Linked DNA regions of Homo sapiens: region 1 is linked to region 2. A link means that fine-mapping ties the variant in region 2 to the expression of a gene that starts in the linked region. Tissue or cell type: prefrontal cortex. Region 2 holds a variant in brackets; the other region holds the start of a gene. All regions are shown on one strand. Distances are between the middles of the regions.

Region 1 (2,929 bases), 43 kb after region 2:
TTTCACATAGACACTCTATTTTCCAGTCTTCCAGTCTCATTTGCAGTAAGCTCTGGCCATATGGTTAATTTCTAGTCAAAAACATGTCATGTTCAACTTCCAAGGTATGTCCTTAAATAGGGAACATATTGTCCTCATTCTTCTCAGCTCCTGAAGTTTGAATACCAATTTAGTGGCTAAAGCTTGAGATACTATCTTGGAGTGTGTTGCTAATGGTGGAGCAACAAGGAGCCTAGTTCCTGATATCATGGAGCTCATATCTAGCCCTGGAACACTTAGCTGCAGACTTCATTTTCATCAGGGATAGAAATAAAGTTATATTTTAGTCTAGCAACTATTTACTTCAGGTGTTTTGGCATTCATGGAAAAGTCTCATCCTAACTTATACTTAATTATTTTACCAAATACTGTTGCCTACATTATATGATTGTGCTTTAAAAGTCTCATCGTTACAGTATACATTGATTAGGACCAGTATTTGAGAGTGTGCATCTCAAAGTTCTGTATCCATAGTTTAGTAACCACCTGTAGTTTTGTTAGCATGAAAACAACTTCTGACTCTCTTTATGCAAATACCTGTAGGCCATTATCTGCTAAATCTTTCTTAAATATGTGGTATATATTAGCCTACGTTTATTTGTCTATTAATACTTGCAAAAGCCACAGCAAAACATGATGTATATAAGTAGGATGATTTTTTGTTATCAAAACTGAATGATAGCTATAGGAAACCAGTGAGTACCATTAATTCACTCTGTTCAATTCTTTGCACTTACCTTCTTTCAGACTCGTTCATCAGTTTCACTTTAGTTTATCTCAGTTTCTATTTTTGGCACCTGTGAGATATGGATGCTTTTTGTTTGTTTGCTCACCTCTCCCCAACCCTCCCTACTCAGTCCCTCAGGAATACTGAGACTAGAGAAATTCATCTTCCCCTACCATGAAAACATTTTTCTGGGGCCTAACATACCTGATCTTTATCTTCCAAAGTTAGAAAATTCAGTTACTTTGGCGACAGCTTGGGAATGAGGTAGGTTCTCCAAGTTTAGCAGAGTAGAAAACTATCTAAAATAGTTTTGTTCAGGGTGTCCAGACATTTAATAAAACATTTTTTACCCACAGAAAATGTGGTCCCTTAGAGGAGAAGCAAGGTCCTGAGCCAAACTTTATAATGTACGTTCCTAGGAGGGAAAGCGAGGGAAATTCAGTCCACCGCTCTGCCTGCCTGCCTGCCTGCCTGCCTGCCTGAGGAGTTGCAGTGCAGAGTATCATTGCAGCGCTTTTCCAGGGAGTAACGTGCTGCACTGGTTCAGGGCTTTGTCTTTATTCACAACACATTCATGTGCCTCAGCATGGGGGCAGCTGCACTGTTGCCTGCCAGCCTGTCCTCTTTGACTGCCGAATGAACCAAAGGATAACTCTCCATTCGTGAGAGAGAGTGAGCTACAGAGGAAGAAAGACCACGCAAAAGGGAGGGGGAGAGAGGGGGGCGAAGAGGATGTTCTCCGGCTCACTCCTACATTAGGTCTCTGTGCAAAGGCAGAGGCTGTGGGAGCAGCATCAAGCAAGACTTCGGGCAGTGATTCTAACTATTGCCTATGAACACCGTGGCTGGGACGACTTTGACGAGGCAATTTATTACTTACGCATAGAACACTGGCTGTGCTGAAACTGGGAGCGCAAACAGCCCCTTGTTTTCTAATTTAGAGACTTGCATCTTTTCGACACTCAACAGTATCAAGACACTCTGCTACTACAGGTAAGACGCAGTTAAGATTTGTCTATTTGTGACATCATTACACTTTAACACACTTTAAACTATGAATACTTTTTTTATATTGTGCCTGGTCTATGTTGAACTGCCTTTTTCCCTTCATATTAGCCTCTCTTCAAGTAAATAATTTCACTAAGAAAAAACTGCTGTTAAATGAAGGAACCACTACTAAATCTTTGCTAAGAGGAATCTACATAATTGTATTTCCATGAGCTCTGAGTTCACAGTTGGGAACTTGAACTTAAACTGGGATCTGGGATGCATTTCATAATATATATATATATTTTTTTTTTCTAAATGTACTGAATTATTCACTATCATTTGGATAAGCCAAAATTATTCTCTTGCTACAGTGCTGTGCTGTGTATATGTTTAGTGGCTTTTTTTTTTTTTTTAAACCTCATAGTTTGGGGAAACTAATGATGAGGCACATAACTTGTGGAGTTTGATCACATCATTACCATGTGGTGTAATCTACTCAGTCAGAAAGATGTGCTGTTCTAGCCTTTACTGAGAAGGTGTTATCTTGTGTACATACATATATCATCAATAGGTAGCATGAACATGTGAAATATTTGTAAGACTAAGAGAAAATGCAAGGATGGTGATAATTCACATGCTGTATGATATCATTGAGTCTCGAGTTTGCTTTACATAAAAATTACAAAATTACCTTTGTTTTTATAACTGGTCTCCATCTTCACTTGTCAGTTTTTACAAAATAAAATTAGCTTTCAGGTGAGGTCACTCGGAGTTGTTGATATAGCTGGGAAAACTGTAATCACAGAAACATATTAATAATGTGTTGAATGTCTATAGAGATATAGGAGTAATATTATCAAGAGGCTTGTACAATTTTCCTCTGCTCTGTTTTGATAAGAGCATCTCATAGTATTAGTCACTTGTAACTTGGATTGATTCTGCTGTCCCATTCAGGGTCCCAATGACTTGGAAGTAAAATTACATTGTTGTCTGTGATCAAAGCTAAAAGCTAGGAAGATTTAATAATAAAGTCTTCTTTCCTTGACATTTTTGCTTAAATTTACCCGATCTAATATATATATTTTTCTATCCATGTGTGTCTGAGGTGTTCTTTCTATTAACCGTATTTTATATAAGAGCTGCTCCTATTTGAATTCCTACACCTGAACTATT
Region 2 (2,929 bases):
TGCAGCCATAAAAAAGAATGAGATCATGTCCTTTGCAGCAACATGGATGGAGCTGGAGGCCATTATCCTAAGTGAACTAAGACAGGAACAGAAATCAAATACTACTTTTTCTCACTTATAAGTGGGAGTTAAACATTGAGTACACCTGAGTACAATAAAGGGAACAACAGAAACCAGAGTCTACTTGAGAGAGGAGGGTTTGAGGAGGGTGAGGATCAAAAACCTACTTATCAGGTACTATGCCTTACCTATGTGACGAAATAATCTGTATAACAAACTCCCACGACATGAAATTTACTTATATAACAAACGTGCACATGTAGCCCTGAAGTGAAAATAAAAGTTAAATATAAATAAAATAAACCAAAAGTTCCACCAACTACTTATCCTGAAATTAAAAGCTCTGACAATACATGCTGGATCTCTGTTGGTGAATACTTTTACTGTCATTCTTATACAATTTACACATCTTGTACAATTTATACATCTTGTTTCACTGTAACACTTTTTTCTCACTCCACTTTTCCTTCACTGATTATTTACTTGTGAAATTGTACTTAACATCCAAAGAGCCTGTATAAATGCCAATTTGCGCCCAGGAAGTCTTCCATGATTTTATCCAGAGGCATTTATTTCTCAGGCTTCTAAACTTCCAAAGGGCTTTATCTCTGTCCCTCTCAGTATACTCATTACTTTTATAAATGTTTCATTGTATTTATTTTCATACTGGCCACTAATTTCTTTAGGTAAAGCATGATCAACTCTCATATTCTTCACACTGTTGTGCATAGTAGGTGCTCAGTAAATTACTAACTGGAGCAATGCTATCATAGCAGAAAAGTCATCATGACAGTAACAGAGTAATATATTTTTTTGAGACTGACTCTCATTCTGTCTCCCAGGCTGCAGTGCAGTGGCATGATCTCAGCTCACTGCAACGTCTGCCTCCCAGGTTCAAGCAATTCTCCTGCCTCAGCCGCACGAGTAGCTGGGATTACAGGCGCCCGCCAAAACGCCCGGCTAATTTTTGTGTTTTTAGTAGAGACAGAGTTTCACCATGTTGGCCAGGCTGGTCTTGAACCCCTGACCTCAAGTGATCTGCCCGCCTTGCCCTCCCAAAGTGCTGGGATTACACGCGTGAACCACTGCGCCCGGGGCCAACAGAGTAATTTTTAAGTGTAAAACACTGGATTAACCTCTTTATACTCCCCAGGGAAAAACTAAAGAATACAAAGTATGAAAATCAATTTCTTTCAATCTTAACTATTCTGGATATATGTCTCCCCAAAATTACCACTAAATAATGTAGGAATCATCAACAATAGGATGAAAAATATTTATTTGATTCAAAGTGAGTATGATAACAATGTTTGCTAATTCTATGATAACTCAAAAACTTAAATGTTCTCTACTTTTTTACAGTTTGGAGAAGATTTTTAAAGCAATTTGTATCTTTAAAGAAAAGATCATCAATTTCTGATGCTGTTCACAACCACAAAGCCTGAGAAGGTGAAGGGAATGCCGTTAAATACCACTGAAGCTTAGAAAAAACGTTTCCAGACCTCATTCATTTCCTCTGTCAGTAA[G/C]GAAATACTGTGTTCAGACAATAAGAAAAGAAACCAGTAATAGAAATTGCTGCAAATTCTGTTTGTGTTGATCCTTCAAGTTCAAACCTTTCATTTCATGGGCTGTAGCTGTTAAGAAGAGAGCTGGGGGAGCCCGATTATTCATTTCTATAATTAAAGAGATACCCAGTCATTGAAATATATGCCCTTCTCTGTGACTGACAGCCGCTATGATTGGATGTTAGCAATGGGCCCCGTGGAAGATGAATTCAGGTAATCTCCATTTTTTTTCCTTCTTCTCTCAGAAAGGCCTCAAATTGACACTAATTTTATGGTCTCAAATCCCAGAGTCCCTTGGATACTGAGAATGGAATGTAAAGAAATTCTCCTTGGTGTCAGTCAGTAACTTTCCCTTTTCTTCAGGTTACAAAAGGCGATTGACAGGAAGAGAAGGTCTGCTCACTGCTACAACAGAGATGAACTTGAAAACTGATTGACAGACATCTCCTCTAGACCTTATTTTTTTCTCATTGTGATGATACCAGTGATGATGAAGAATAGATGATACAAGTTCATAGGAAGATAGGTACCTTTAACTGTCATTGTCAAAGTCAGATGGCACAATGGAGACACACCAACCAAAATAAAGCCAGGTCTCACTGAACAGATTTTTCCTTTTCCTCTTATCCATTCACTTAGAAAATTAAGGACAAGGAATTACAGTACAAAGACCCCTCCCTTGTCTGTATTCTAAGAGCCCAGTCCTTCCCCAGAAAATACAGCATTCCCAACCCTTCACACTACACAGGTTGTAAATAAGCAGTAAATATGTGTTGAGTTAAAGAAACTAAAGATACAGAAAATATATTCTCCTTCAAAAACAAAGAAGAGAAATTAACACGAGTTGACTATTTGCAGTGTTTTAGGCACAGTGAATTATATGGATGGCCAGATAGCGGCCACACACATGTGCACACTGTAAGTGCCAGGGACACACAGAGGTGGCCCCCAGAAAAGAATTAGATGCCACAGGTCTCAGTGCACATGGCTTTGCCCTGCTCAGGTGAGTCTCTCTGCGCCTGGCCAGGTCTGGAGCTTGATTTTGTGTTGCCCTACAGTCCATTTAGACTTCTACCATTATCTGGAAAAACTAGCACAATATGTGTGATATGGTTTGGCTGTGTCCCCACCCAAAATCTCATCTTGAATTGTAATCCATATAATCCCCAGGTGTAAAGGAAGAGACCAGGTATAGGTAATTGAATCATGGGGGTGGTTTTCCCCGTGCTGTTCTCGTGATAGTGAGTGAGTTCTCACGAGATCTGATGGTTTTAAAGTGTTTGGTAGTTCCTCTTGCCTTCATT

The links. PIP is the estimated chance that this variant, and not a neighbour inherited with it, causes the effect.
Region 1: LINC03000 starts here. The variant in region 2 is the best candidate, but not a certain one, in a credible set for the expression of LINC03000 in prefrontal cortex (CommonMind, PIP 0.87).

Annotation. Positions count from the first base shown.
Region 1 is chr5:164,295,438-164,298,366 of GRCh38, forward strand. It overlaps LINC03000 (long intergenic non-protein coding RNA 3000), which reads left to right and starts at 1,268. Exons shown (of 5, transcript XR_001742489.2): 1 at 1,268-1,759.
Region 2 is chr5:164,252,017-164,254,945 of GRCh38, forward strand. No RefSeq gene overlaps it. Among named protein-coding and RNA genes, the nearest start is that of LINC03000, 43 kb to the right of the region's middle. The variant G/C (reference allele first, on the strand shown) is at 1,587.